Linked DNA regions of Homo sapiens: region 2 is linked to region 1. The links come from fine-mapping of genetic effects on gene expression. Tissue or cell type: skeletal muscle. Region 1 holds a variant in brackets; the other region holds the start of a gene. All regions are shown on one strand. Distances are between the middles of the regions. Region 1 overlaps PBX3 (PBX homeobox 3). Region 2 holds the start of PBX3 (PBX homeobox 3).

What was found. PIP is the estimated chance that this variant, and not a neighbour inherited with it, causes the effect.
Region 2: PBX3 starts here. The variant in region 1 is fine-mapped to the expression of PBX3 in skeletal muscle (GTEx, PIP 0.97).

What each region holds. Positions count from the first base shown.
Region 1 is chr9:125,812,966-125,828,373 of GRCh38, reverse strand. All of the region lies in intron 2 of PBX3 (PBX homeobox 3), which reads right to left. Among named protein-coding and RNA genes, the nearest start is that of PBX3, 73 kb to the right of the region's middle. RefSeq lists an enhancer at 7,161-7,210. The variant T/C (reference allele first, on the strand shown) is at 8,062.
Region 2 is chr9:125,738,862-125,754,269 of GRCh38, reverse strand. It overlaps PBX3 (PBX homeobox 3), which reads right to left and starts at 6,897. Exons shown (of 9, transcript NM_006195.6): 1 at 6,617-6,897; 2 at 5,647-5,720. The coding sequence starts at 6,816. PBX3-DT (PBX3 divergent transcript) reads left to right here and starts at 8,341. Exons shown (of 2, transcript NR_122032.1): 1 at 8,341-8,854; 2 at 10,333-10,516. RefSeq lists silencers at 5,923-6,262, 6,533-7,062, 7,073-7,122, 7,373-7,802.

The sequences.
Region 1 (15,408 bases):
TCCTAATAAATTATGTTTAACAAATAAAAATATACTTTAATATAGCATTTCTATATAAACCATTTGTTGCTGTAAACTATGGAAAATTTGTCTAGGCAGTACATATATCTCAGTATCTCTGAGTATATATATCTCAGATCTGATAGGTCAAAAGCAAAATTATTACCCAATGAAAATGTGATGAAAATGTATTTAACTGAATGACTTCTGTGTTTATCTTGTTGGTTTACTAATAATTCAAAGTAAATCCTCTGGACAGCAAACTAGTACTCCTAAAAATACAAAATACACATCATTATATCCAGCAAAAGTCCAAACCTAAGGACTACTAATATCTGTATCCAGCAAATAAGGACACAGAAGACTAAGGTCCTAGATGAATTTAGTTTCTGATCCTTCCAAAATGCGTAGTTCCAGAACAAACCTCTGTATCAGTCTTATTACTGGTAGCAATATAAATTGGTACAACCACTTTGGAAAGCAATTTGGCAACATCAGATAAAGTTGGATATACACATACTCTATAAACCCAACAACTCTATTCCTAGTTATATACCTCAGAGGAATTCTTGCATATGGACAAAAATATGTGTACAAGCATGTTTATAATACCAAAATTTCAGATGAAATGTAAGCATCCATCAGTAGTGAAATGAATGTGAAGTTCATCTGCACGGTAGAATACTACAAAGCAGGTAAAACTAATAAAATCAATTCACGGATATCAAAATCAATGCAGTACATGTTGAAAACTGGTGAGCAAAAAATCAAGCTACAAAAAGATGTACAGTGTGTATATACGACACATAGGTATTACATATGTGTATATATACACATTATATTTGTCAATACTAAAAATACTAACATTATTTGTAAATACACGTATGTGTAGTAAAAGCATTTTTCACATGAGAAGAATATGTACCAACCATAAGATAAATAGGTACTAATTTGGGGTGGGGAAGTTAGTGAGCTGAACGGATGGGGAAACTTCAAACATATGTAAATGGATATTTTTTAAAAATAAATGTCTAAAGCAGAGATGGCAAAATGTTAACATTTATTAAACTTAACAGGAAGAAATAAAAGGCTATGTGTTTGAAATATTTCATAAGCAAAAATCAAAATGCAAAAAGTCCATATACCCTACATGGGTCTTTACTTCAGAATTACCACTAATAATTCATTCAAATACATTCATTGATATACTGCATAATTTTATTGGGTTAAAAGTTATGTCCCAATTTCACGTTCTCATTTATATGTGGGAGCCAAAAAAGTTGATCACACAGAGGTAGAGAATAGAGTGACAGACACCACAGACTGGGAGGGGTGTGGGTGGGAGGTGTGGATAAAGAGGGATTGGTTAATGGGTACAAACATACAGTTAGATTAAAAGTATAATTTCTAATGTTTGATAGCAGGGTAGAGTGACTACAGTTAGCAAGAATGTGTGGTATATTTCAAAGTAGCTAGAAGAAAGAACTTGAAATGTTACCAAACACAGAGAAATAATAAATACTTAAGGTGATGGATACCTTAAATACTCTGACTTGATCATTACACATTCTATGCATGCAACAAAATATCACATGTACACCATAAATATAGAAAATATTATGTGTCAATTAAAAAATATGTCCATAATTAAGGGTCAGAGCAATCCACTCTTCTGAATAAAGTCATCACACAATAAGTTGAACCATCTAAATACTTAGTACTGACATTACCTTTATTATATTTTTCAAATATTTAATATATCTTATGCATATATTTTCAAAGAAAAAAAGTGTGTGTCATCACCCAATAAGCTGAACTGTCTAAATACTTAGTAGTGACATTACCATATTATGTTTATGAAATATATCTTATGTATTCATTAGATATATTTTCAAAGGAAAAAATCCCATAATCACCAATGACCCTTCATTAATTTGTGAATATTCCAGACAAGCTAGAGTCGACAAGACTTATATTATCTGATTTTCAATTCTGTTTGAACTTCACATAAAAACATTTTGAAGAGAAAGGAAGGTTATTACTATATCATTTGTGACAAATAATCAAGATATGAGAATAGTAAATAAATTATTTGAATTTAAAGTTAGGAAGCACTTCTTTTTCAAAGAATCCTATATGTAAAATAATTGAGCCATGAAAAATGTTAAAACAGGTAAAAATCATGCCTCAAAAGAACCTGGTAAGATTGTGGTAAATAAAGGAATTTACTAGGCGAGAATCTCTATTCACTACAGGCAATTTTAGCTGTTTTCTCCTGGAATTAAATGTTCTATCCTAACTTCTGGAACTAGTTAAATATTAACGTTATTGCCTTTCTCAAAGATAATGGTAGAATTTAACTGGTTGAAAACTGCCACCCACAGCTAACATTTATAAAGTATCTCCCAATGCAAAATTAAACAGACTTCCTTCCAGGACATTCTAGGCAAGTTCCCAAATAAGATTCCTAAACTAAACAAAGCTACTACATTAAACTTGGCGATATCACAATCATGAATTGATCCTCTAAATGCCAAAATTGAGAGTAAAAAAGAAAAATGGACACTTGTTAGCAATACAGGATAGCAGAAGTACACAGTGATGCTTACTGATGAAATGAGGATACTTTCTAAATCAGTGGTTTTCAAACTGTGGCCCAGGTACCCGTGGGGTCACTGAGGTACCCTCAGGGCTCTGCAAGGTCAAAACTGTTTTCATAATTCATTAAGATGTCACATTTTCTGTTTTAACTCTAATTTGTTCATGAGTATACAATGAAGTTGACAACAGGCTACGTGAAGCATGGCATCACAACAGAATGCAGAAGGAAATATGAGAAAACAGCTGTTGAAGCCAGACATTAAAGAATTTGTTAAAAAAAAAAAAAAGTAAAACAATATCAATCATCTAATTTTTTATTTTGGAAATATAAGTTGTTTTTTATTTTAAAATGATACTTATGCTAACGTGTTATTGTTATTTTAAAATAAACTAATAAAATTTTTAAATTTCTAATACAGTAAATACTAATAAATATAACCCACATAAGCCAAAGCTTGCTAGGTTCTCAATAATTGTTTTTTTTTGCGGGGGACAGAGTCTCACTTTGTTGCCCAGTCTGGAGTGCAGTAGCACAATCTCAGCTCACTGCAACCTCCACCTCCCAGGTTCAAGCTATCCTCCCACCTCAGCCTCCTGAATAGCTAGGAAAATAGGTGCATGCCACCACGCCCAGCCAATTATTGTATTTCTTGTAGAGATAAGGTTTCGCCATGTTATCCAGGCTGGTCTCGAACTCCTGAGCTCAAGTGATCCACTGCCTCAGCCTCCCAAAGTGCTGAGATTTCAGGCGTGAGCCACTATGCCTGGCAATTCTCAATTATTTTTAATTTTAAATGTGGTATGGAAAGAGATCCTGAAAACAAAAAGTCCGAGAATCAGTGGCCTAAATCATAGAGTTGATACAAGGATTAAATGAACTAATGCATGTAAAGCACTTTTCACAACGCATGGCAAACAGTCAACGTTCAGTCAATGGTAGCTATCGTTATTGTTACATAACAACAGCTGCGGCTACAGATAGCAATGCTGAGATCAGCCATTTCTGGAGACTTTGTTGTCCCCCACTGTCTAGTAAGCAATGAGTATTTAAAAAAAAAAAAAAGCCAACTGATTCATCAAATGTAATTCATCATATAGATTCTAATTTAAATTCTAATACAATCAATAAGAACCTGTTAGTCTGAAAGACTGTATCTTTCTAGACCCTGTTAACTTCCTTATAAACTAGGAAGGCCTAGGACTAGACTTACAATATACCTTGGAGACTAGAGTTATCTTGTCCTTTGAGACACCTGGAAAACAGCAATGAGAAGCCTAAGTGTCCTGTGCACAACAAATTAATTAAATATGCATTCTCATAATAAAGAAAGGTATACTTTCCTTTGAAATACTGGATCAATAAGGCATCATGGAATAACGGAACTGTGGACAGGCCCTTGAGCATGCTTCTGGTTAAGATTCTTCATTCCAGGCATATCTAGCACACACCCAAGACAGATCAACAGGTACAGAGACTCACAAACGGACCAGTCATTTTTCACTCTAGTGGTTACGTAGCCCCTCTACAAATCAAACCACAATCTTTCTTACTTTCACTTTCAGGACACTTCCTTATGTTTCATCCTTTATTGATAAAGCTAAAAATAATAATAGTAGTTGTATACAGAGGTCAAACACCTGGCATCAAGCTCATAAAAATCCTTTAACCCTTTAGCCTACATTTTTTTTTTTTTTTTGAGACAAAGTCTTGCTCTGTCACCCAGGCTGGAGTGCAGTGGCACGATCTCAGCTCACTGCGACCTCTGACTCCCAGGTTCAAGCAATTCTCCTGCCTCAGCCTCCTGAGTGGCTGGGACTACAGGTGCGGGCCACCATGCCTGGCTAATTTTTGCATTTTTGGTAGAGATGGGGTTTCACCATGTTGGCCAAGCTGGTCTCGAACTCCTGACCTCAAGTCATTCACCCACCTCAGCCTCCCAAAGTGCTGGGATTACAGACATGAGCCACCGCGCCCAGCCTAGCCTACTTTTCTCTAGTCAAAACACGTTCCAAATCTTTTAACTGTTTCCCATTGGATCTGTACTTCCTTCTCTTAACCATTCTTTTCTGTCTTCTAAACCCCAAGATAAAAACATACAGAATTCTTTTTTAATCTTTCTTTCTTTCTTTTTTTAAAAAAGGAGACTGATCCAAAGTAGCTAACACAGAAATTTCATTGAGGCACTAACAGACTATTTAGCCTTTAAAACTTTATTTAACACTATTACCAAAAAAAAAAGTAATTTATCCTCCTTAAAAAGGACCATATTAACATTATATATGTTAAATTCAGTCTTTTAAAAACTATCTTTGTATCTTGAAATCAGCATTAAGATGAAAGCAAGAGATATTACTGTTGCTATGGTAATACTTCAATGAACAGCATAACACACACTGGTACATAAAAACCATTTTCTGAGCAGCATGTACAGGTAAATAAAAGTTAAATAGCACATCAACAACAATTTCCTCACAGGGTCATGACAACTTTTATTTGTGATGCTTATTTTTATATATTACAGTGACTGAAGTAAATTTGAAAATGTCAATAATCAACAGCAATGGTCAGCATTTGCAGAGGGAACCAGAGAATGTTCGTTTCTCCACTTTTCCCACAACTGTATTTTGGAGTTTCAAGAACCACAGAAGCGTCATCAAATATGACCATACCACAAACTTACACATACAAGAGGCATACTTGCTAAATAGGCAAACATAGGTGAGTTAGGAGAATTAATGAATGGTGGGAGGTTCTGACAAAGTAAAACTCACATCTTTTTTTTTTTTTTAGCTACTTAGCAAACAAAACAAAAAAACTAAAAAACCCCACAAGTTATATAACTATTGATATGGATGATCCATAAAATCCCAAAATTCAACTACTCATTATGGGGTGTTTCACAAGTATGAAGTACTGAATTAAGGTTGAGGGTATCATAATGTATTATGTGGGGTTTTAAATAATAACTCAATATAATAAGCTACTATACTGAGATACCCTGTATTAATGTACAAAAAACATTAATGAAATATATGCTTTGATTGGATTATGCAGCCTTTCTTCTACATTCAAATTACAATCCAAGTTGAACTCAAAGACAAGTTTCCTTTTAAAACATTTCTCTAAACTAGTGGAAAAAAATGTTTATAAAAATAGTGTAGTCTGAGTCTGAATAAACGGTATGCTCAGGGAAATTTCAGGTTTCAACGTAAAGAAATATACACATTTTAGAGTTTCTAAAGAAAGAGTATTATTTACAATGAAAAACCACATCTAAGGAAGAAACGTTTTTAAACTCTGGAGAACAGGGAAAAAAAGAAGAGTACCTCCTTTAAAAATAATTTTCAGTCATCAGTAAAGATCTTTCCCAGATCTTGTGTACAAGAGGAAAACCACTGCCATGGCTACGTGTAAGAGCATTCCTTATCCCCAATGCCAAATGGGCAATAGAACAGACAAAGTCCATTCTTTTAAAGCTATATGCTGTATATGCTGAGGTTAAAAATATTTACACAAAATTTTATAAAGAAGAAACAATATATTTGAGTCATAAAAATAAGTTAGCTCTCTGCCACCATTTACTACCCACCTTTAAATATTAAATTTTAATTTTACTTATTTAGGAAAAATTACATAATTCTTCATAGCACAGTTTAAAAATAACTCCACTATTAATGCAGGCCCTTTATTTAATCACAGGCTAATTTACTCCTGACAGAAAGTAAATTCCACTATTTTCTGTGAGGCTTTATGAAATTGCCATCATTTTTAATTAATTCTTAATTAAAATATATTACACCACAGCTTCTACCCATCTCTCTTGATATTCTAACATAATCAATTCAAGACCATTTACATATCATTAATTAAAAGCCTTCCTCTCTCATCCTTAAAATCATAATGAGGCTCTATTTCTCATTAGCAGCCTTTAAGGGGTAAAACAACAATACAGTCAAGAATGAATAGTAACTTGAAACAAATAATTTGTACTTTTTAAAACTATATAGTGGACAGAGCTAATTTCAAAATTTCTCAAATTTGAGAATCCTTGAATTATTTCACTGTGTTTCACAGGGGAACCACCAGAGCAACAATTGGTGATAAAATGAAACTAATCTTCAAATGAGTTAAGCAATAAATTCGGTAAGAAATAGTAGCATCTTTGAGATCTGGGAAAACCAAATAGATTTCTTTATTTAGACAATAACAAATCTTACCATGAAATACTACCAACAAGTTAGTTACTACAGAAAAGTAAAAAATAACACAATTAATATGATCTTGTCTTCATTTCCATTTTTAAAAATTAATCCCCTATATTAATCCTTTCCTTTAAAAAAGATTCTTTCTTTCAACTAAAGTCCATTGTTAGTATCTCTTAAATCTTAAGATACAATTAGAAAAATGTAATTGAAATTTATACCTCTATGCGTTTCTTATTAGCTTACCACTGTCAGAATGAAGTCTCTAGTATCTGTGGTTGTATGAAGAACTGAAACAGAGAAGCTCGTATAAAGTTCTATAATTAAACTCCAGAGCTATGATATGTTTTACACATTCTTAAATGAGCTGTAATATATACTGGTACTATAAAAAGTTATCATTTATTGGTAACGAAAAGAAAAAATTAACCACCTAATTCAGTGATTTTACCTCTTCAGGAGGCTTTAAAGGCAAACGCAGCTTGAGAGATTTATAGGAACTCATGACTTTTAACCCACTATTTTCAATATTTTGGCTATAAGTTACAAAATTAATACAACCTAAACTATGATTACATTTATGATTAGTATAAAATAAAATTTCATTGCTTTTCTTTTGCTTTGAGCAACTGTAGTAGTATTGCCTTTTGCAATACTACTTTTAAAAAGACTGAACAAAACATTAATTTGTCACATTTTTCAGAGTTTACAACTCATAATTATATTTCAAGGCCACACTACAAATACAAATAGAAAATAAGTGAGAATCAAAATGTGACCAAAAAAATACTACTACTTAATAGAGGCAAAATAAAGTCAGACTTGCAGCTTGGAAATTTTATGCAGACTTACTGTCACCAGCATTAACTATATCTAGGTGCTTCGTATCAGGCAAATCAGATTTATATCACTGTCTTCTGTCAAATGCAGGTGCTCCACCACAACTTGTCAAGACAGCCTGTCTGAATCTTCACACGTCAGACAGAATCACAGCACTTGGTGTTTTGGTCTGTTGACAGCAATTTATTTTGATGTGTTGTCACAATATGAAATTCTTCAATGCTGTGCACCATGGTGCCAGTAAGTCCCACTATACTTTTTTCTACTGTGAGATGCTACAGGTTTATTAGTGAGGGAGCGAGAACAAAGTTTTGTCTTGCTTTTAAAACCCATTTCATTTAAGCCCTAAACAGTTAATTTTAAAGTGGAGGGGAGTGCTGAATAGAAACAAGCACTGTCATGAGACATTCCTTAATC[T/C]CGGTATCAAGTGTCTTGTTTCACACCACAATCTATTTGGGTGAAGCAAAGCCAACCAGTCTGTTAGGAATAACCAGAGACCTTAAATATCCAGTAAGTCAAAATTCAGAGTAGACTACACTAAGACTAAACTAATAGCTTGGGCTACAGATCCAGTGTGGTCAATTGTTTCTTCATCTTTTTCACAGTGCTTCTTTCAATCCCACAGTAAAAACTTCAATTCAGTGCAGTGCAAACGTTTTCATGCACCCATTTATAGGTACTAGGAGATCCAGGTGAAAGAAACAATGAATAGGAATAGATTTCTTTGGGGTTTTTTAAAATTTCTTTTCCAAAATCTATACAAATTCCATATTAATCCTCCAAGAATGTGAAATAAAATTTACATGGGAAATACAAAAAAGATAACTAATTAAATGTGGCAGAAAAAAAGATAATATTCACAAAAAAGCTCAGAGTTGTTTTCAACTTTTGTAGTATTTTGCTATTTCATATTCTAAGTTTTCGTATTAAAAGATTCTAACTAAAATAAACTTAAAAGTGAAGAGTACAGGGTTACATTGTGTATATATACATAAAACACCAGTTTTATATATATATAAAACACTGGATATATATGTACACTGAAGATATATAAATCTATTCATAAATGAAGCTTTGCCCATATCTATATCTAAACCCTCTTCTTACAAGCAGGGAAGATATCAGTAGTATTTGCACGTTTCCCATTTCCATATAGTTCAGCTGATCTATTATAGCTAGAATTGAATTTTTTTTTCTTTTTTTTGAGATGGAGTTTCACTCTTGTTGCCCAGGCTGGAGTGCAATGGCATGATCTTGACTCACCACAACCTCCGCCTCCCGGGTTCAAGTGATCTCCTGCCTCAACCTTCCGAGTAGCTGGGATTACAGGCATGAACCACCACACCCAGCTAATTTTGTATTTTTAGTAGAGTCAGGGTTTCTCCATGTTGGTCAGGCTGGTCTCACTACCCACCTCAGGTGATCCGCCCACCTAGGCCTCCCAAAGTGCTGGGATTACAGGTGTGAGCCACCCCGCCTGGCCTTGAAAATTTAAAAATAAAAATTAATGTTCCTTTGGAAAATTAAAAAGTAAAAAAATAGTTTTAGATTTGGAATTATACATTAGAAAGTATGAGATTAAAAATAATTATCAGGCCAGGCACAGTGGCCCATACCTGTAATCCCAGCACTTTGGGAGGCCGAGGTGGGTGGATCACTTGAAGCCAGGAGTTCGAGACTAGCCTGGCCAACATGGTGAGACCCCATCTCTACTAAAAACACAAAAATTAGCCAGATTTGGTGGTGCATACCTCTAGTCCCAGCTACTCGGGAGGTTGAGGCAGGTGAATTCCTTGAACCTGGGAGACGGAGGCTGCAGTCAGCCGAGATCACACCACTGCACTCCAGCCTGGGCAACAGAGAAAGACTTCGTCTCAAATAATAATAATAATCATCATCATCATCATCTTCAAAATAATAAAAATAATTCTCATCAAGGCTGAGTGCAGTGGCTCACGCCTGTAATCCTAACACTTTGGGAAGCTGAGGCGGGCAGGTTTTTGAGCCCAGGAGTTCAAGACCAGCCTGGGCAACACAGCAAGACCCTGTTTCTATATATCTTTAAAAAAATAATCTCATCATGCCAGGTGTGGTGGCTCATGCCTGTAATCCCAGCACTTTGGGAGGCCAAGGCAGGCAGATCACTTGGGGTCAGGAGTTTGAGACCAGCTGGTCAACATGGAGAAACTCTGTCTCTACTAAAAATACAAAAAAAATTAAAATAAAAATTAGCCGGGCGTGGTGGCACAGACCCACAATCCCAGCTACTCAGGAGGCTGAGACAGGAGAATCAATTGAACCCAGGAGGCAGAGGCTGTAGTGAGCTGAGATCATGCCACTGCACTCCATCCTGGGTGACAGAGTGAGTGAGACTCCGTCTCAAATTAAAAAAAAAAAAAGTATGGTTATGTATGTAAGGCTCATTTTCAAACTTCATAACTTAAGTAAGAAATGTTTTTATACTTATGAGCAGGAACTCTCTGGTAATACTATATCTGGTTTTGGTTTTTGTTTTTTTTTTGGTTTTTTTGAGACGAAAGGCTTGCTCTGTCACCCAGGCTGGAGTGCAGTGGCACCATCTCAGCTCACTGCAACCTCCGCCTCCCGGGTTCTAGCTATTCTTCTGCCTCAGCCTCCCAGGTTGCTAGGACTACAGGTGTGAGCCACTATGCTAGCTAATTTTGCATTTTCAGTAGAGACAGGATGTCACCATGTTGGCCAGTCTGGTCTCGATCTCCTGACCTCGTGATCCGTCCGCCTCGGCCTCCCAAAGTGCTGGGATTACAGGCGTGAGCCACCGCATCCAGCCAATACTACACCATTTATAATATACTTTGTGAATGGTCCATCATCTACAGCTGGTGCACGCTATACTCACAAGAATTTATCTCCAAGGAATTCCACCGCAATTTTTTAAAAATCTAACAAATCTTTTCTGTGAGGTAAGTGGGTACTAGAGCAGATGGTATTTTTTCGATTTGTAGGACAAAAAAAATAAGATGTAAGACTTTACAGTGAGTTAGAATCAAAGCTGAATGAAAATTCCCAAACTTAAAATTATTTCATTAAATTACATTCTATGAGTTCTTTAGTTAGATTAGTTTAGTGGGGTAGCCATTGTGCACAATTCTAGAATGCACCGTTATCAAAGTGTATTATAAATGATGCAACCTGGAGTTGTGCAACTCAGCAAATATGAATGTAAAGAAAGACTCAATGAAATTAATGTGTGTGTGTGTTTCTTTCAGAATAGGGGACATGTATCTATCGCACAAACCCCAGTGGATTAATCTATAAGCAAAAAAATACATCATCACATAAGTCACAAGTACCTCTAGTCCACCTCCAAGATCTCTAGGAAAATAAGGCTTTGAATAGTGTTGGAATGTGGGATGCAAATACTCTTGAAGAAGATCTCTTATAGGTTTATTTTTACCTAATAAATAAGTATTGGAAGTAAACAACAAATCTGTGTGATTCAATATGTGTTGTATCTAAACTTCATCTCTAATCTACTTTAAAGAAACTAGTCACACTGATAAAACCAAACTACTTATAGGTAGCCTTTACAGACCAGTGCTAACACAGACCAATTCTTTACTCTATTGAGGTTATCAACACAGAATAATTCTTCACTCTAGTTTCATGACTGATTTTGGAAAGACTAAGAAGCAAAAAATGTTGATTAAAAAAATTGTTTCACCTTTTAACAAGGTGAAGATCAGCTACGCATGCACAGATACATTAACTGCAGAAAAAAATGAAACCATATAAGAACTCTGGTGTCTCCAAAAATAGTCAAAAAGGACCAATCATCTGATAATCTAAATGATGAGACATTACAAGAAAAGAAGAGAACTGGTAAAGGATAAAAAGATTAAACTGGGATTCTATGTTAAAGAAGGTATGGCACAAAGACCATGAAACTGCCAAGCAATTTCAGTGTTGAAATGTTCTGTGTATATACACACACACAAACACACACAAAAAAGAGAGACAGACTAAAACTTGAGGACAGACACAACCCTTTCCCCAGTCAAAAGAGTATAATATAAAGAGAACTGAACCCTGAGTTGGAAGATTCGAGCACTAATCTCTATCCCAGTTCTGCAACTTACTCAGGCAAGTGACCATCCGTAAATCCCTTACTTAGCCGCTCTAATCCTCACTTTCCTAATTTGTAAAACAAGAGTAATATACATTCCACCTAAATCAAAGGTTGTTATGAAGATTAAGCAGATAAAATCACTCCGAACAATGTAAAAGCACCATAGAAATATTCAATAACAATTGAAGACAACTAAAAAGCAAGCATCGCTCTGGATCTTCTGGCTCAAGAGAGCAGACTGAGTATGTATGTTTAATTTCCATTCTTCCTTTCCAGTTTCCCTCTGATAGGACTGTAAAGGGTATACCATTGAGAAGGGGGAAGAGCCGGGTGCAGGGGCTCACACCTGTGTTCCCAGCACTCTGGGAGGCCAAGGCACACAGATCACTTGAGCTCAGGAGTTCAAGACCAGCCTGGGCAACATGGCAAAACCCAGTCTCTACAAAAAACAAAAAACAAAAACCAAAATTAGCCAGGCGTGGTGGTCCTCGCCTGAGGCTGAGGTGGGAGAATCACCTGAGCCCGGGCAGTCGGGGCTGCAGTGAGCCATGATCGCACCCCTAAACCGCAGTCTAGGTGACATAGTAAGACACGGTCTCAAAAAACAAAAAGAGAGAGAGAGAGACGGAGGGAGGCAGAGAGAAAGAGTAGGGGGTGGGGCTGAAGAAGACCAGATTTTGATAAATTTCTGTAACACAGATAACAAATGAGACACCACAATGACAAGTGCATCACAGTGAAGGAGGCCCAAATCTACAATGAGAAGGAGGTAGGAGCCGGTTTTCCCAGCAAAGACTGACAGAGGCTCCAACCTTGGACAGAGAACAGCAACAGGAAATGGGGCAGTAAATTAAAAGAAGGTCTGAGTAACACCTGAGAAATTTGGTCCCTCCTCACATTTTCCACACACACACACACACACACACACCCAGTCACTGCAAAGAACATTTGCCCAAAGGAGAAGTCAGACAACCATTCTCCAAAAATAATTAAGAGGTAATATCAAAAGTACAACAGTTAAAGAAGGGAGTACTAATTTCCTCCTGTTTCATATAAAAGTAAAGTAATACAGTCTGATATTGATGGAATCAAAGCTAGAGAACACATTGCTTATGTTATACGAGGAACCTACAGCAGAACAAAAAATAATACAACAACAAAACCAGAGAGGAAGAGAAGGAAATTATGTGGGAGATTATATAAATAAGCCAAATTCCTTACCATGGAAAAATGATATACAGTCAACAATTTCAGTTATTTAAATTTATGGTGGGTAACTAGCAAGAAAACAAAAAAGAGAAAGATGAAATGTGGTCTTCTCTGATGAGTGGGACTATAGGAAGGAGAAGAACAGCAAGAGGTTACAACATTTTTTTCAACTGTGCAAGGAGAGTACTTTTATAATTTAAAATTACCTGCTAACTAGTTGAAAAATATTCTTTTCAAAATGGATTGACCCAGAAAGTTACCCTGAAGGACAGAAAATCTGACTACTTAGTCTGATTTCTTTCAGTCTTTCAAAAAAATAGACATAATTCTTCAGGTTGTGAGGAAAAATTATCTTCCTAAGCATACAAGTAAGGAAAAAGAAATGGAACTGAGAAATAAGGAAGATTTTATCTTTCAGAATTCTGATAAAAGATGAGTTAGAAATGAGAGGCTGTAATTCCCTAATCCTTCAGGCTGAAGAATGGCAATTGGGAATAGTGTTTTCAACCTCAAATTCCTATTCTGGAAGTTGTTAATCGGCTTGAATGGTGGATGGCTTAATTATATAAGGACCACATTAATGTCTCAAAGGAGGGAGAGTGATCTGATAGGTTTTAATTTAAAACACTCTTCATAAAATTAAAAACGAATGCCAAACTGACTATAATCTGTGCCTCTGTGGAGAAGTAAAAGGCCAATACAGCTCTAAGAATACAGCATGATCAATGGTCTTTGAGGCTAAATTGATCCAGTACTGGTCAATAATCATGAATGTTATTCATTGGGCAGTCAAAAGTAGTCTCTCCATTTCTGTTCCAGATAGCAGGTCTTTTTCTAGGTTATTTTCAGATAGTTAGAATTGCATCTATCTGTTAATGGGAAACATTTTCACTATTCACATCCTCTAGAATGACTCTATAGAACTAAAAATCCTGGGATCTAAATGTATATATGTAGCTCACAGCACTTACGGCACTCATCTTAAATAGAACAGTACAGTTTGGAACAATTTGGATCCATTCTGTCTCATTCTACAGTTTTACTGGCATTGTACCATTCCAAAAAAAAAGAGATGGAACAAACAAGTTAAAATCTATACAAAGTTAGAGTTAACAAGGGTAGTAACTTTTCAAAGTATAGAAAAATATAATAACTGCGAGAACACTAGGTCAAATATGAAAGTACCCATCTTTGAAGGGAACATGCAACCTGCTAGCTTTGATCCTAGGATACTTTTTTTTTTTTTTTTTGAGATGGAGTCTCACTCTGTCGCCCAGGCTGGAGTGCAATAGCGTGATCTCTAAGCTCACTGCAACCTCCACCTCCCGAGTTTAAGTGATTCTCCTGCCTCAGCCTCCTGAAAACCTGGGACTACAGGGGCGCACCATGCCCAACTAATTTTTTATTTTTAATAGATACAGGGTTTCACCATGTTGGCCAGGCTGGTCTTGAACTCCTGACCTCAGGTTATCTGCCCATTTTGGCCTCCCAAAGTTTTGGGATTACAGGTATGAGCCACCGTGCCCGGCCGACATACGTGTTTATGTATGTATTTCTCTAGATCTTTTCATTGAGTAGATTCAGAAGCAGTGATACCTAATAGCAATGAGCATAACTTACACTCAAATCTTGTTTTCTCAATGTCATTATCCACTAAAAGGAACCAAGTATACTTAAAGAAACGGTTGATTCCAGGGCTAGGACAAGGCAAAGACAAGATAAGCTGGGAACATCTTATCATACCAGAATATAAGGAACTGCTTGAAGAATAATGGTGACATGTCAAAAAGACACAGATGACAGCCTGAAGGGCTCTCATTGGCCAGAAGGATTGCAAACACAATGGTTCCAACATTAATGAGTTACTGAATCAAATTGTAATCCTCTGGGTGTCTTGTTATATGACATAAAAGATATCTTGATGCGTTTAAATGACTACAGTTGGGGTTTGCATTTACTGTTATACACTGCATAATGATGTTTTGGTCAACCATGGACCACATATACAATGATGGTTTCATAAGATTATAAAGGAGCTAAAAAATTCCTATCACCTACTGATATTTTGATGATCATGACCCTACTTACACATTGGCCTATGCCAATGTGTGTTTGGCTTGGTTTTTAACAAAAAAAAATTAAAAAGTAAAAAAAATTAATAAAAAGGTTATAGAATACGGATATAAAAAAAAATCTGAATGCTCTGTGGTGTAAAGAAAAAATATTTCTGTAAAGCTGTACAATGTGTTTTAAGCTAAGTGTTATTACAAAAGTCAAAAAGTTAAAAATTAAAGTTTATATAGTAAAAAGGTTATAGTAAGCTAAGGGTAACTTATTGAAGAAATAAAAATATTTTTATAAATTTAGTATAGCCTAAGTGTACATCATATATAAAGTGTGCGGTAGTATGCACTAATGTCCTAGGCCTAAACATTCACTCACCACTC
Region 2 (15,408 bases), 74 kb after region 1:
TCATGCTGATCACACTGATAAATGGCTAAAACACAAGACTGCTGAGAAAACAAAACATTATTCTCATAATGTCAATATTGAACTAATAAATATCTAAAGATGTTCACAAACACGAATAGGGAAAAGATAATCTAAAACCTTATATAACTTGATGTGTTAGTGCTGATGTGTTAAGCATTTATTCTAAATAGATACCTCAGGGTAGAGTACAAAATAAAGTGATGACTGACTTAGGGTGTGGTTCACGAAATGCAGTTTCAATTCTTATAGTCCCACTTCATATAATGTAACTTCATCCTATACCATGCCACTATAAAGTATCAAAATATAAATAATCCAACTAATACGTTAATTTAAATTTGCCTCAGAAGTAACCTTTTACAAAATTTATAAATTGAGATGGAAATATACAGGCAAAATTAATTAAAAGGAAAAGCATCATAGTATGAAAAATGTAGACAAGTACATTTTATGAAAGCCGATCAACCAGTGTGCTCTTTGGGGCAAGTCGGGGCCTCCTTTGCTAGTGTATTAAAAGACTTCTAATTCAGAATAAAATTATGTAAATTAATAAAATAACATAGTAAAGTCCCAAATAAAATACCAAAACTATTCAAATCTGTAATAAAATGAGGGTCATTAAAACTAAGGAACAAAAGAATTACTTGCACAGATCAAGTTAGTATTGACAAGAGAGTTCAATACATTTTTATTGGGAAGAAAAAAATAAAGAACAGGATTGGAAAATGTCTCTATATTTTAAAGATAATATCCACATGATACTTTAGATCATGAGGTTCTAAACCAGCTTGGCAATGAGATTTTTCTCCAGGTTTTCTACAAATGTATTATATGTGCTATTTTGTTAGGATGGAAATGGAAGAATAAAGAAGTAGAAAAATCCCTTTCTTTTACAACTTCTCTGAAAACCTCCTACAAAAGCTCCAGTAAGATACCAAATCTATAAAAATAGAAAAAAAAAAAGGTAAAATATTAAGTTAAGAAAAATATATTGATAAAGCAATATAATTTATAACATTTCCAAGATACTCTGACTTTGTATTTTTCCTGTTTAATCACTTAATATTTCCAATATAAGCAGACCTAATGCTTAAAATTGATATGAAACTTAAAACATTAAAGAACCATTAAAATTTGCTTCAAAATAATTTTGGAATGGTGGGAATTACAGAGAAAACACGACTGGCCAAGTATTGCTAATTGCTGAAGATGGGCACTGAGTTCATGGGAGGTTCAAGAGTCTCTGCTCTCTGCATGTTATGTTTCAAAGGTGTCCACAATAAAAAGTTGTTAAAATCTTGAAAATAAGTTCATTAAAACAAAATGTGTTTCATGAAAACACAAAAAGGAATCATGTATGGAACAGTGCATTTGTTTTTAAAACTTGAAACAAAAGATGATAATTATATTGGAAATAGTGCAAGAGCAACTTAAAAGCATATGCAAAATATATAATAACATTTAGACTAATATATAACAATTTTCACCTTTCTTGCTAAATTTTCACTTGAAAAAATTGATTTTTACATATGTAGAATTAAAAGAATCACACAGCACTGTACAAAGAAAAATGTAACAGATTTTTATATTGAAACCTTAAAAAGAGAAGCACACCAAAAAAAGACTCCAAAGAGTCTCTAAACCTGTGGGTTCACAATTAAATAGAGAGGTGTCGAATGACAGTACTGCCTTGTCTCTTTGAAAGCTAGTCACACTTCTAGCAATAAAGATAAAAGGTTTAATCTCACATCATATACTAAATGCACATAAAACCTCACTTGTAAACTATACTCTTGATCTAGTTTTAATATCTAAAATTCTTATGACTCTTTCTAGGGAGGGTTCCTTTAAAAGTAAGGCATTTTTACTAGTCATTTTCTTCTCCTTAAACATAAAAAATACTTCAACCAGCCCAACCAACCAAGCAGGCCTTTCTCTTCCCCTGCGGACACCTCCTGCAGTAGAGAAGTTCATTAAGTTTTATGATCTTCCCAAGTCAGTCCTACTTATAAGCCTCACAAAGGCTACAAATCTGGCAAACCATCATGTATGCCATTAGACATTACTAGTAAATGAACGCTATTTAGGGTTTGTGGTGGCAATAAATCAGAGTTTGGTTGGCAGCCATCAACATGGAGTATTTTAACCTATTATTTGAAAAGGAAAAGGTTGTGTTTATTTTTTTTCATGCATAACATTTTTCACAATAATGTGATTCATATTATCTACTAAAATGTGGGATTTCATTTAAAAAATAAATATTTTTTTCTTGAAAAAGAACTATTTCCTTCACTTAAACTCGCACAATTAAGGGCTTTGGAAAGAAGACAAGATTTTTCAGGATGAAATATTTCACAAAGGAAAGCACTTCAACAATTAAGATTAAGATGACCAAAAAGAGGTGGGGGCATACACCAAAAGAGGTATGCAGGTGAGCAGACCTTGTGGCATCAGGGATATTTAATAAGAGACAGATGATAAAATATGGCTTTAAAAATCAGGAGAAAAATCTTAACATATCAACAATAATCTCACTGGTTACTTGGTTTAAAATAAACAACTATTTTTATTTTAAAGCCTACAACTTTTTGGGTGCTCTCAAAATGCACAAATATCACAATTCAACAATGAGAGACATTTCTGCCCAAAAATAATGGTATGATCAATTTTACGAAAGAATATATTCTCAAGAAAAAGCAGCATCTTATAGTAGAAGTATACTTTCCTTACCTCTCAACAAGAAAATAATATAATTGTAGTAGATTACCCATTTATCTGTCAGAAGGGAAAAATACCTTTTCATATATGGTAGAGGGGGAAACAGATGTTTTCTAAACTAAATCCCCCATGTGCATAAGAACTGGCAGTGTTCACTGCCTGATCAGAAACCTCAAAATCCACTGGCAGAGCTACAAATAAACAGATTTTTTTTAAAATGATTTTGTTTTGTTTTAGAAGAAAAGCACAACTGAAATGACATTATCCACTGAAATGACAGTTCACCCTCAACCCCCTTCATTAAGCAGAATAGAGTCATCAACATAATGTTTCTGGTTTCTATTCATAAATGACTAGGTAAACTTTCTCTAAATTACAAAGAATTAATTTTTAGGTATTATTAGATTAAATAAAATGATTTTTAAAAAATATTTATGCAATATACATATATTCTACAATGTTTCTTTTATAAGTTCATGTTTCTAAAGCATGACCGACTATGGAAGCAGGAGTGGGGGGGCTTGGAATTTGCAGCCCCGCTTTCTTTGCTTTGGTAACACTAATGTCTACACAGCTGTTTTATTTCGAATTGAGGATTCTGAGTCCCTGTCTCATTCTAAGACTAGTTTTGGAGAGTGAGGTGAAGCTATGGGTAGTAGGGGAGAATGGAAAGAAGAGAAAGAGCTTCACCCCCATCAATCACTCAGTACTTAAATCCCATCCCTCTCGAGCTTAGAGAGGCTAGCAGGAAGATGCCTCTACCCAGACAGCCGCCTTTACTCTTTGTCGGCTGTTGGCTTTTTACAAAAGAGATAACGTGCAAATGTGGATCCACTGGCCAAAGCACAAAAAGAGAATCTAATTTACAAGTTATCACTGAAAGCCCCAGAAACAATTTTAAAACACAAAAATTTCTTTTGTCAGCTGCCTCTTGGTTTTTAAATAGCAATAGCCCTACCAAAGCTCTCTCTGCCAGTAATCCCAGACTTTGAAAAGATTTGTTTCTTTTTCGTAACTCACCTTTGACATGTGGTTGACTATACTTTCCTTTCAGAATGGTGTAACTAAGTCCTGTGCAAATAAGCAACTAAAGGACTTATGCTTCCTAATTGAATTCTGCCTGCTGCTAAATGTCTCAACATGAAAAGCAGTTTGCTGGGTTTAGTTCTCAAGCTAGCTAGGCCAAAACTTTAAAAAGGCAAAAATAAATAAATAAATACAAATAATGAGAAGGGGATGAGAAGCGATAAGTATCCATCCCCTCTCCCTAGTAATATAAGGCTGTATAAAGTCGAATCAATCTTAATATTCACAACATAGTCAATACCCCAGTGCTTGGCTGTCAGCAGAAACTGAAGTGGAGCCCTGATAGCAGGAAAACCCTTGGACACTAAGCATCAGAATTTACTGAGAATTGCATACTTTTAAGCTTCTAAACTAAGAATCTTCAAGACTGAATGCTAGATGTCTTATTTTACAGTCAGATAAAAATTATCTACTGCTTTAAATCAAAACGCTTTCTAAAGGTAGCTAAAAATCAACACAAAATAAAAGTTAGTAATTCAAGAAAGGATCACTGAGCATTAAGAAACCAGCCATAATATGTGAATGAAAACCAGGAAAAGTACTCTTTGGCCTCCCTTATTATTTGCTGCTTATTATGGTTTAGCATATATATTTAATAGACAGCAATAACTCATCATCTTTTCTTGATTACTTTTAGGATCAGAATAGTATTGCAAAGCGAAAAACCTGTTTCAAAGAAGGCTGACTCGCCTATCAACCTAACAATTATTTGCACTGTGCTATTTGTACACTCAATTTAAACACAATCACATGTAACCTTCTAAATAGCCTCCCTTGGATAGTGCTATATCCTGGACTTCAACTTTTTCTCCTTTGCCTCAACTTTCAAAATGGCAACTTTAAAATACCATACATCCAACACACACCAAAAAAAAAAAAAAAAAGAAAGAAAAGAACAGGAAAAAAATAAACAGTAGAGCTTGTTTAATGTACTTGTTTGCCACATACAGGGAAGATAATGCCAAATACAAACTAAAACATCCAAATCTCTGCTTCAGTTTGAGCAGTTACCTCACGTCAAGACTGAAAGACCTTCAATTAATAAAGTCTGACAAGAAAGTTAAACTGAAACGAATTGCCAAAAATTTGCCAAATATGTACCTGTAGTTTTCATTCCAGCACTTCTGCAAAACCTATCTTCTTATATATTCCCTGACTTGGACACTTCAAAATTGTTTAACCTGCATCTGTAGACCTTTTTATACTTTATATATTAAGCACAGTTACAAGTGTAATGACTTCAGAATACAAAATAATACAAGTATTAACAGATGTAATACATCGTATGTGTCTACACATCATTACCCTTCCTCGATTCTCTAAAGTAGCCTTCCCACCTAAAACACTAATTCAAGCATGCTACTGGGGTCTGTTCAATTGCATCTATTCTTCTATCCGTGCAGCTGAAGCTTAAGACTGTCTAAGTAAAACAAAGTTCGGGCGATGCTTCTCCCGGGGACTCGGTCCTGGCATCCAGTCTCCCGTTGCTCCTTTTAAAAACTGACACACAAACAAGGCGAAAGGAGAGGGAAGAGGGCGGCTGGCGCTCCGGGCCCCCTCCCCGCCTGCAGCCAGGGGCGGCCGCCGAGGGACGGCGATCCAGCCCGGTCCGCACCTACACTTCATTTTACACCAGGAGCAGAACTGAGAAATTGACTCCAGATTTATTGCAGTTTTTTCTCAAGATCAGGACGTGGGAAGGAGAGAATGATCAAAGATGGCGGTGCCCAAAAGCAGCAGCTCTCAACTGGAGAGTCGAAGGAGTAGCTCCGACCCCCACCTCGGGGGTCTCCAGGCCCACTGCGGGGCGCAGCGTCTTACCTGTTTTCTCTTTGATCTCACACAGGACGCTGAAGAGCGCTGGTTTCATTCTGTGACAGTTCAGGGCATGTTTCCTAAAAAACAAATAACGAAACACAAAGGTATTAGCATCACCTATGGAATAATATGGCGCCTTCCTTTAAGTTAGACCCAAGATTTAATTCCAGCCCCCCATTCTGGAAGGCCCTTTTGAACCGTGGGAAGTCAACAAAAACTCCAGTTGACTAGTTCCCGACAGCCAGCAAGCCCCGGCGGCGAAAGCTGCAGCCGGAACAAGGCGGACCCATCTGCCCGGCAGGCAGCAGCCTCGGCCACTGCAGACGCGACGCGAACCCGCGCGGGGAGCCTCGCCCCGGGGGCAGGCGAAGGCGACCCGGGGGAGGGGACGGGTGCGGAGGGGCTCCCGCGTCCGCTCCTGTGCAGAGGAGGCCGGCCGACTGCGGCCAGCGGGAGGGTGACAGCTCGGCAAAGTTTGCAAGGCGGCCCTCCCTCTCCGAGAACTTGGCCGTCCGCACCCGGACCCGCCAGGGAACCGCCCATCGCCCCGCGCCGGGCCCGGGTGGCCGCCCGCATCGCGAGGTCGTCCCGCGGCCGCGGGAGCCGGCGCCGGGACTCCCCGCCGGAGGAGAAAGTTACACTTCCCGGCGGCGCGGCCCGCACGGGGTCGGGGCGGGAGGTTTAAATCCCTGGGAGGGGGCCGGGCTGCGAGGGGCAGGACGGGGGAAAGGACGCCACGGAATCCGCGCCGCACCGAGTCCGTCCCGAGCCCCCCAGAGCAACTTTGCCGACTCCCGCCCGCTTCGGGGGGCGCGGGCAAGTCCCCCCGAGGCCGGGGCGGGCGGCCGGCTTTCGGAGAAAGTTCCCCGCCGGGGGCTGCGGCCCTAGCCCCGGGCGCCACCCCGGGCCTCGACTCGGCCGCGGGCCCGGCTCCCGCACACACACAAAAGATGCTTAATGAGACGACACCAACTTTGCTTGCGCCTCGTCCAAGCTCTGGTCGGTGATGGTCATGATCTGGTGGAGGATGTCGCCGATGTCCTGCTTCCTGCCGTCGCCGTCCGCCCCTTCGTGGCCGTGCGGGGGAGGCGGCAGGGCCATGCCCCCCTGCACCGAGTGGCCAGCCAGGTTCACCCCGGCCAGAGTCTGCAGCATCCTGGATTGATCGTCCATCCCGCCGCGCGCGGGCGGGAGCGGGCGGCGGCTGAGGCGAAGGCTGAGGCGGCGGCGGCGGCGGCGGCGACGAGGGAGGAGAAGAAAGAGGGGGAGGGGGAGGGGGAGGCGGCCGCGCGCTCCCCGCCCGCGCGGGGAGGGGGCGGCCCGGCCGGCAGGGCCCGCGGCTGAGGCGATGAGGACGGGCGCCCGGCTCCGGCTTCCGCCGCCGCCGAGGCTGAGGAGAAGCGGCGGGCGGAAGCGCCGGGCTCCGCGGCGGTGGCGGAGGCGGAGGCGGCGGCGCCCGCTGCCCTCACGCGGCCGCCGCGCCGCCTCCTCGCCGCCGCGCGCCCCGCCGGGCGGCCCCGCGCAACTTGCTCCTCAGCGCCCGCCGAGTTGCCGGGACGCCCGCCGCCCCCCGCGCCAGCCTGCGCACTGCCCTCCTCGGCCGCCGCCGCCGCCTCGGCCAGGCGGGATCCGAGCCCCGGCGGCCCCGGGGGAGGCAGCGGCGGCGGCGGCGGGCGGCGGCGGAGGAGGAGGCCTGCGGGCGGGCCGCGGGGAGCGAGGGGGGGCGGAGGAGGAAAGTTTGGGAGCGGGCGGGCAGAGGCGGCGGGGGCGCTGAGCCCGGAGGAGGGCCCCGGCGGGCCGCGCGCCGGGCGGACAGCCGATGGATAGGGCGGGAGAAGTCGCCGCCGCCGCCGCCGGAGCCGCGCACCCAGCCAGCAGCCGCCGCGGACCGGGCTGGAAGGCCGCTGGGCCGAGGGATTGACAGGCTGCCAGTGCCACTCACTCACTGCGGCCCCGCGCCGGGGGGAGGGACGGGGGCTGGCAAGGGCGGGGGAGCGCTCCTCAGACCCCGCCCCCGGGGCGGTGCGCGCGCTCATTGGGCTCTGCGCCTCCCGCCGCCGCCGCCGGCACCGCCCCCGGGGCCCGGCCCGTTCCCTCTGGCCTCTGATACTCCGCGCTCCGGAGTGTGCCGCCGGATCCTCGCTCCAACCTCGTCGCGTCCTAGCCCCCCGGGATAGACCGGGCCGGCCCACAAACGGTGTGCCCGCACCCCGACTCCTGCTCCATGCTTTTGGCAGTCATGGGAGCGGGGGGTTGTGTATGGGACAGTGGGCAACTCGCTGCAAAGCCAACCGTGTGCTCCCCCGCCGCGCCCGTGAGCTTCACGCCTCGGACAGCTCCTGGTGCACTTTCCCGCTCTTCCTGTCAGGAGGTGGTGCCCTCTGGGTACCAGGCCGCTCGTCCCGGGCCAATCGCAAAGCGCTTAGAGCCGAATGGGGCGGGACAGAGGCAAGAAAGGGTCGTCCCAATTGGAGCGTTCGAAAGGTTCTGGGCAGAGGCGGGGAAGCGGCGAGTGGGGGCCTCGCCCCGCCTGCGGTCGCCATGGTAACCGAGAGGGCGCAGCTCAGCGTTGGCGCCAGCACCGGGGTCTTGTGCTGTCCCTCAATGGGTGACCAGTTAAGGTGGGAACCTGTGGTCTCACATACTTGAAGTCTGAGCTGAGTGGACCTGACTGCCATAGACTTTCCATTGAAAGGGGAAATGTGTCAGAGAGAAGCGAGTCTGGGAGGAGGGAAAGTGCCTTCAGTCCAGGACTAATTTCAAGGTTTACAACACTTTACACACTCTGCAACTCCTGATAATCCAGGGACTACTCCTTTGGCAGCGTTTGCTATTCGATGCCTCCAGATGTACTGAAGCTGCAAAAACGAGCTCTTCATTACAAAGATACGTTTGTTTAGGAAGAGACTGGATTTCACTTGTCAACTTACCCCATCACCACGAGTCATTTAATGTTGGTAACGCCAGCCACGATTTTTCGTATCTATAACACCCCTTCTTCCATTGAATTCTACCTACAAATAACTGAAGGCTCACATTATTTTGGAATATGGACCTCCGCCTCTTGTGGAGACTTGAGATTGCTCTTAAGCTGATTTCCCAAACAGGGGCTGCAATGTGTGTTCCCGATTTTAGATTCATTGAGCTCACCCTAGATGAGTCCTTTGGTTCGGTGGTTCGGAAAAGTCTCTTTGTTCCTTCTCCAAACTCAGTAAGCTGTCTTACCTGAAACCAAAAATAGGGGTATGAGGATATGAAAAATGGCTCTTACTCTGCAGGGTTTAATGTAGGACAAGCAGTTCTTTAAATGCCAGATGGATTCTTGGAATGAAGCAGGCTACTCGGTTCCAGGTTCTTTCCTTCATATGTTGTGTGTACTTTTAAATACTCCCCACTGCAAAGCTAATAGCTAAGCTTACAGTTAGGCAAGCTAAAATCCTTACAAACTGCACAGCTGCTGAGGAGGGAGTTCCAAAAAATCCACTCTGCTTACTTACCTCCAAAGAAGAACCCCCTTCATGTTCATTAATATTCTCTGCTCTTCTATACCCCATTGATATGTCAAGTTTCCAATTCTTCTTTGAAGCCCCCATTATGGGTTACTTATAATCGTCATTGATTGGGTTTTTTCTTTATTCTTAATTTGTTTTTTAAAGCTGTCACCAAATTCTTAAGCATTTTTGCCAAAAGGCGCAGGAGCAAGCGGTCAACCTTTCATAATTCTCCAACGCTGAGGATGCAAAACCACAGAATTCTAACTGAAAGATGCCTTAAATTCTAAGATTCCTTCCAGCTGTAAAATTCAATAATCCTGTGACTCACTATTAGGACTCCTCTCTGCCCTCCTTCTAGACTCATAATCTTGACTAATCAGTCATGAGGATGAGGCTAATTAGCAATGGGGATTTATGGTTATTTCTAGCCCACTCCGAACAATGAGTTATGTAAGCAAAGCAACATATATAAAAATGTAAATAGGCCGGTGGCTCATGCCTGTAATCTCAGAACTTTGGGAGGCCGAGGCAGGTGGATCACAAGGTCAGGAGTTGAGACCAGCCTGGCCAACATGGTGAAACCCCATCTCTACTAAAAATACAAAAAATTAGCTGGGCTTGGTGGCAGGCGCCTGTAATCCCAGCTACTCAGGAGGCTGAGGCAGGAGAATCACTTGTACCCAGGAGGTGGAGGTTGCGGTGAACTGAGATTGTGCCACTCCCCTCCAGCCTGGGCGACAGAGTGAGACTTCTTTTCAAAAAAAAAAAAAAAAAGTAAATAAAGAAACACTTAAGCAAATAAAGGCAATTGGGAACTATGGGCTGTGTAAACACACTGGAACATAAAAACATAAATTAGAATTAAGAAAACAGTTAGGCAAATGCCAGCAATTAGGAATAAAACAACTTGTTAAATGTCTAACACCCACAGTTATTTTATGGTACACTCCTCTACACCCATGGTCATTCAGTGATGTGGAAACTTGATACCATAATTCTGCCTTAAGTGATTGAATTAGACTGACCTTCTGCTTGGGAGGCTTCTCTTTTTGTTGTTATCAGTATGAGTTGCAGTAGAAGCCTGAGGACCCTAGCAAGGATTCCTTCACAGGCTCATTGACAACTGCCGTTGATTTAAAGCATAACTTTTTTAGACTGGTTTCCAAGCCTCAATATAACTGTCAACTAATTGCAGATGTTCCAGGATCTCTTGGTGCTCGTGCCAGTGTCTCATGTAGAATGTTGCGTGATCTCTGCTCAAGAATCTGAGTCACAAGGTTGATGCCTTCACAGATGACAGAACAGAAGTTCCCTGAGTACCCGAGTCTGTCTTTGCTGTTTCTAAGGTAGTGATTATTAAAATGTCAAGGGAAATGAAATTGACTTTTGGTGAGCAGACATTCATGTAAAGTTAACAGTGACAAAGTGGTGAAAACCAAGCAGATGTTCCTTCATGGCCATCCCTTTCCATGAGTTTATATTAACATCACCATTGCCTCTGTCATCAATAGGGTGACTATCACAGCAGATGCCATTATTGAGCACTTTCTTTGGGGGTACACTATCCTCTGTGTTCCCTTGCTTCATCTTATTACAGTCTCACAACAGCCTGCTTGGGATTGTTATTAAATAAGAAATAGAATGAGAGAGAGTAAGAAATTTCCACAAGACCACAAAGCCAGTAAGTACTAGAGCTTGAATTCAAATATTGATCTATGTGGCTGCAAAGACTACCGTATAAAACACTGTGCAAAAAAGTAATTTAGCCAGGCTGGTGACATGCAACTGTAGTTCCAGCTACTTTAGAGGCAGAAACAGGAGAATCACTTGAGTGCAGTAGTTTGAGGCTGCAGTATGCTATGATCACACTTGTGAATAGCCACTGCACTCTAGCTTGAGCAAAGTAGTGCTACCATTTCTCCTAAAATTTTTTTAAAAGTTATTTAAGATTATGAAGTAAAAATCACAAGACCTTAACAGATAAACTGAAAAATTAATGAAAATAAGTAACTAGGTGCTTAATAAAGAGAGAATAAACAGCTATATTAGAGGAATCCAGGTCTCAAGGCAGGGGAGGAGGGAAATTAAGGACAGTCAGACCATTCTTCAAAGCCACATTGGGTCCCACCTCTCCGAAGCTTTTCTGTGATGCCTGTCTTCTCTGATCTTTGTCTCCTCTAAACTCCCTCAGAAGATTGCAGTGAGATCGCCTCATTACACTCCAGCCTGGGCAACAGAGTGAGACTCTGTCTCATAAATAAATAAATAAATAAATAAATAAATAAATAAACTCCCTCAGTATATGTTGCCTGTAATACATAACCTACTACCATACTAGATAGTCTTGCACTGTTTGTTCTCCATCCACCTCTGTTAGTTTCCTCATCTAGGTCATAAAAATGTCAAGGGCAAGGTGTCGTAAGATGTGACTATAATATGACAGATTTGATTTTTTTTTAAATCATAGACATCTAAGAAAAGGTAACACTCTCCAACTTGTCACTTTGGGGAAACTGACTAAATGCTTCTTTTCAAAATGTATCATTGCTCCATTGCTTTAGGAATGACTATCTATTTGTTTATTTGTTTGTTCATTGATTTGTTTCTCTAGAGAGTGGGACTTGCTCTGTCACCCAGGCTGGAGTACAGTGGCGCGATCATAGCTCACTGTAACTTTGAATTCCTGGGCAATCCTCCTGCCTCAGGGCTCCTGAGTAGCTGAGACTGCAGGTGCACACCACTACACCCAGCTAATTTTTTGTATTTTTTTTGTATGGATGAGGTCTCGCTATGGTGCTCAGGCTGCGTTCAAACTCCTGGCCTCAAGGGATCATCCCACCTCAGCATCTCGAAGTACTGGGATTACAGGCATGAGCCACTGCACCCAGACAGGAATGACTCTTTAGAATTGGTCTTTACAGTTGATAGCACATGTGACATATGACCAACGTTTATCTTCTAAGGATGGATTTGATTGAGTTACCAAAGATTTAGTGGGATAACAGTCCATCCTTCTAAAGTGATGCCTTTAAAAGAGAATATTTATCAGAATGTATAATTTCTAGAAAAATTTGGTAGAATGCTCCCTCTCTTATGTCCCTTCATAGCACCCAGTACGGTGCAGTTTCATACAGAATAGACAGTTGGGGCCGACATGACCAGTTGTTGGCCTGCCATCCATTGGCTTACTTCCTTCTACACCAATAGAAGCCTGATTTTATTCTGAAGACAATGTGCTCAGTCCCAATCAAGGTCTAAAACAAGTATGAGCATCCTGTCCCCTGCCTTCTGAGCCTGTCAGGAGGAGGGGTGACCTTGCTAATTTTTTAAAAAAGGGACAGATAGGCCAGGCGTGCTGGCTCATGCCTGTAATCCCAGCAATTTGGCCACTGCACTCCAGCCTGGGCAAAGAACGAGACCCTGTCTCAGAAAAAGAAAAAAAAGGGGACAGACATGGCTCTTCTCTCCTTCATTTTCCTGGCTCTTTCCATCTTTGAAAGTAGTCCTGAATCTGGAGTGCTCATAGCAGCCACCTGTGATAGTGAAATGAAAATATGAAGACAAAATCAACATGGTTTGGTGGTTTATATCTGTGGTCTTCCTCCCAAAGCTTGTAATCCCAGACCAATAATTAGAAAAATATTACACAAATACTAATTGAAGGACATTCTACAAAATACCTGGCCAGTAATTTCTCTGGTCTTTGTACTCCTTGTAACTGTCAAGGTCATAAAGAGTAAGAAAAGTTGAAAAACTGTCACAACCAAGAAGAGCCTAAGGAGAAATGAGGACTGGATGTAATCTAGCATTCTGGATGGGATCCTGGAACAGAAAAGGGATATTAGGTAAAAACTATGGAAATTTGGCCAGGCGCGGTGGCTCACGCCTGTAATCTCAGCACTTTGGGAGGCCGAGACAGGCGGATCATGAGGTCAGGAGATCGAGACCATCCTGGCTAATACAGTGAAACCCCGTCTCTACTAAAAAAATTTTTTAAAAAAATTAGCCGGGCGTGGTGGCTGGCGCCTGTAGTCCCAGCTACTCGGGAGGCTGAGGCAGGAGAATGGCGTGAACCCAGAAGGCAGAGCTTGCAGTGAGCCCAGATGGCGCCGCTGCACTCCAGCCTGGGCAACAGAGCGAGACTCCGTCTCAAGAAAAAAAAAAAAAACTATGGAAATTTGAATAAAGTATACACTTCAGTTAGTGATAACATTTCACATTGGTTCATTAATTTCAAAAAGTACCATATTAATGTGAGATGTTAATAATAGAGGAAATAGTGTATGGGATATTAGGGAACTCTCTGTACCACCTTCTAAATTTTTTTTTCTTTTTTTTTTTTTTTTGAGACGGAGTCTCGCTCTGTCGCCCAGGCTGGAGTGCAGTGGCGCAATCTCGGCTCACTGCAAGCTCCACCTCCTGGATCCACGCCATTCTCCTGCCTCAGCCTCCGGAGTAGCTGGGACTACAGGCACCCACCACCACGCCTGGCTAATTTTTTGTATTTTCAGTAGAGGTAGGGTTTCACCGTGTTAGCCAGGATGGTCTCGATCTCCTGACCTCATGATCCACCCACCTCGGCCTCCCAAAGTGCTGGGATTACAGGCATGAGCCACCGCATCCGGCCCCACCACCTTCTAATTTTTATCTGTAAATACTTTAAAAAAAAACATTCAGGGCCAGGAGCGGTGGCTCACGCCTGTAATCCCAGCACTTTGGGAGGCTGAGGCGGGTGAATCACGAGGTCAGGAGATCGAGACCATCCTGGCTAACACGGTGAAACCCCGTCTCTACTAAAAATACAAAAAAATTAGCCAGGCATGGTGGCAGCCGGCTGTAGTCCCAGCTACTCGGGAGGCTGAGGCAGGAGAATGACGTCGACCTGGGAGGTGGAGCTTGCAGTGAGCCGAGACTGAGCCACTGCACTCCAGCCTGGGTGACAGAGCGAGACTCTGTCTCAAAAAAAAAAAAAATAAGTAAATAAAATAAAACATTCATTCAAAACAAAAATAAACATGGTAAGTGGGGTAGAAAGATAAGGAGAGCCTAGGTGTCTGCAGACATGGTCCAACATCTGAGCCAAAGAAGCAACTGCTTTCCCTTGGATTTCTAGTTTTGTGAGTAAATTCATCTCCTGTTTTAAAATCCTATTGGCTGGGTTTTCTGTATCTTGCAGAAAAGCTGATATAGCACTATAAACACTTATATGACAGATGTATGTGTGGATGGATGGATGGATGGATGGATGGATGGATGGATGGACTGATGGATGGATGGATGGAATAGCCTAGCACAATGCCCGACACATAGTAGGAGCTCCTAGAGTGGGGGAGATGATGTATGATAAAAAAAAAAATTCCTCTCGTCTTTGTATTGGATTCCTGGGAGGTAACATCTAAAACCCTTGAAATCTCCCAAGCTATAAGAGTGTTTTTATTATTCATGAGGCCCTTAGATCACATCTAATTTTATGCTAAAGTGATGACTCAGGATGGTGGCTGGTCACCAGAAAGACCAACCATGTGATTAGAGTGTTGGGGCTTTGAGGGAGCTGGAGATTGAGTTCAGTCATAAGGCCAATGATTCAATCAATCATGTCTATATAATGAAACTCCGATAAAAACTCTGGACACCCAAGCCCAGAAAAGCTTCCTGGTTGGTGAATACATTGATGTGCCAGGAGGGTGATACACCCTGACACCATGGGGAAAAGCATGGAAGCTCTGCATTCAGGACCCTCCCAGCTCTTGCCCTTGACCTCTCTACTTGACTGGCCCTGGTTTATATCCCTTATAATTAAACTATAATGCTGAGTATAGTGCTTTCCTAAGTTCTGTGTCATTCTAGCAAATTATAGAACCTAAAGGGGTCACAGGAACACCCACATTTTCAGCCAGTTGGTTAGAAGTACAGGTGGCCAGGGGACCTCAGAACTTGTGGCTGGCATCTGAAGTGAAAGCAGTCTAGTTGGGCACCATGCCTTTAACTGGGATTAATTGACTGTCATTTCTAAGAGGCCTACTTAAAGGAACCTAATTTAATTGAGACAAATTCCTTTTGCCTTTTCCCCACCTCCTTTTCCCAGCCTGTAGTTGATGTCTGGAGCTCCAGGAGTCATCTTGGCCCATGAAATGATCTTGAGAGTGGAGGTCAGGCACTAGGATAGTGAAGCAGAAACTTAAGAACCTGGGGCACGGGTGGCACCATGAAGCCACCATCTAAGGGATAACACCAACCCTTGATTGCTTCTTCCACACGGCTCTTACAGAAG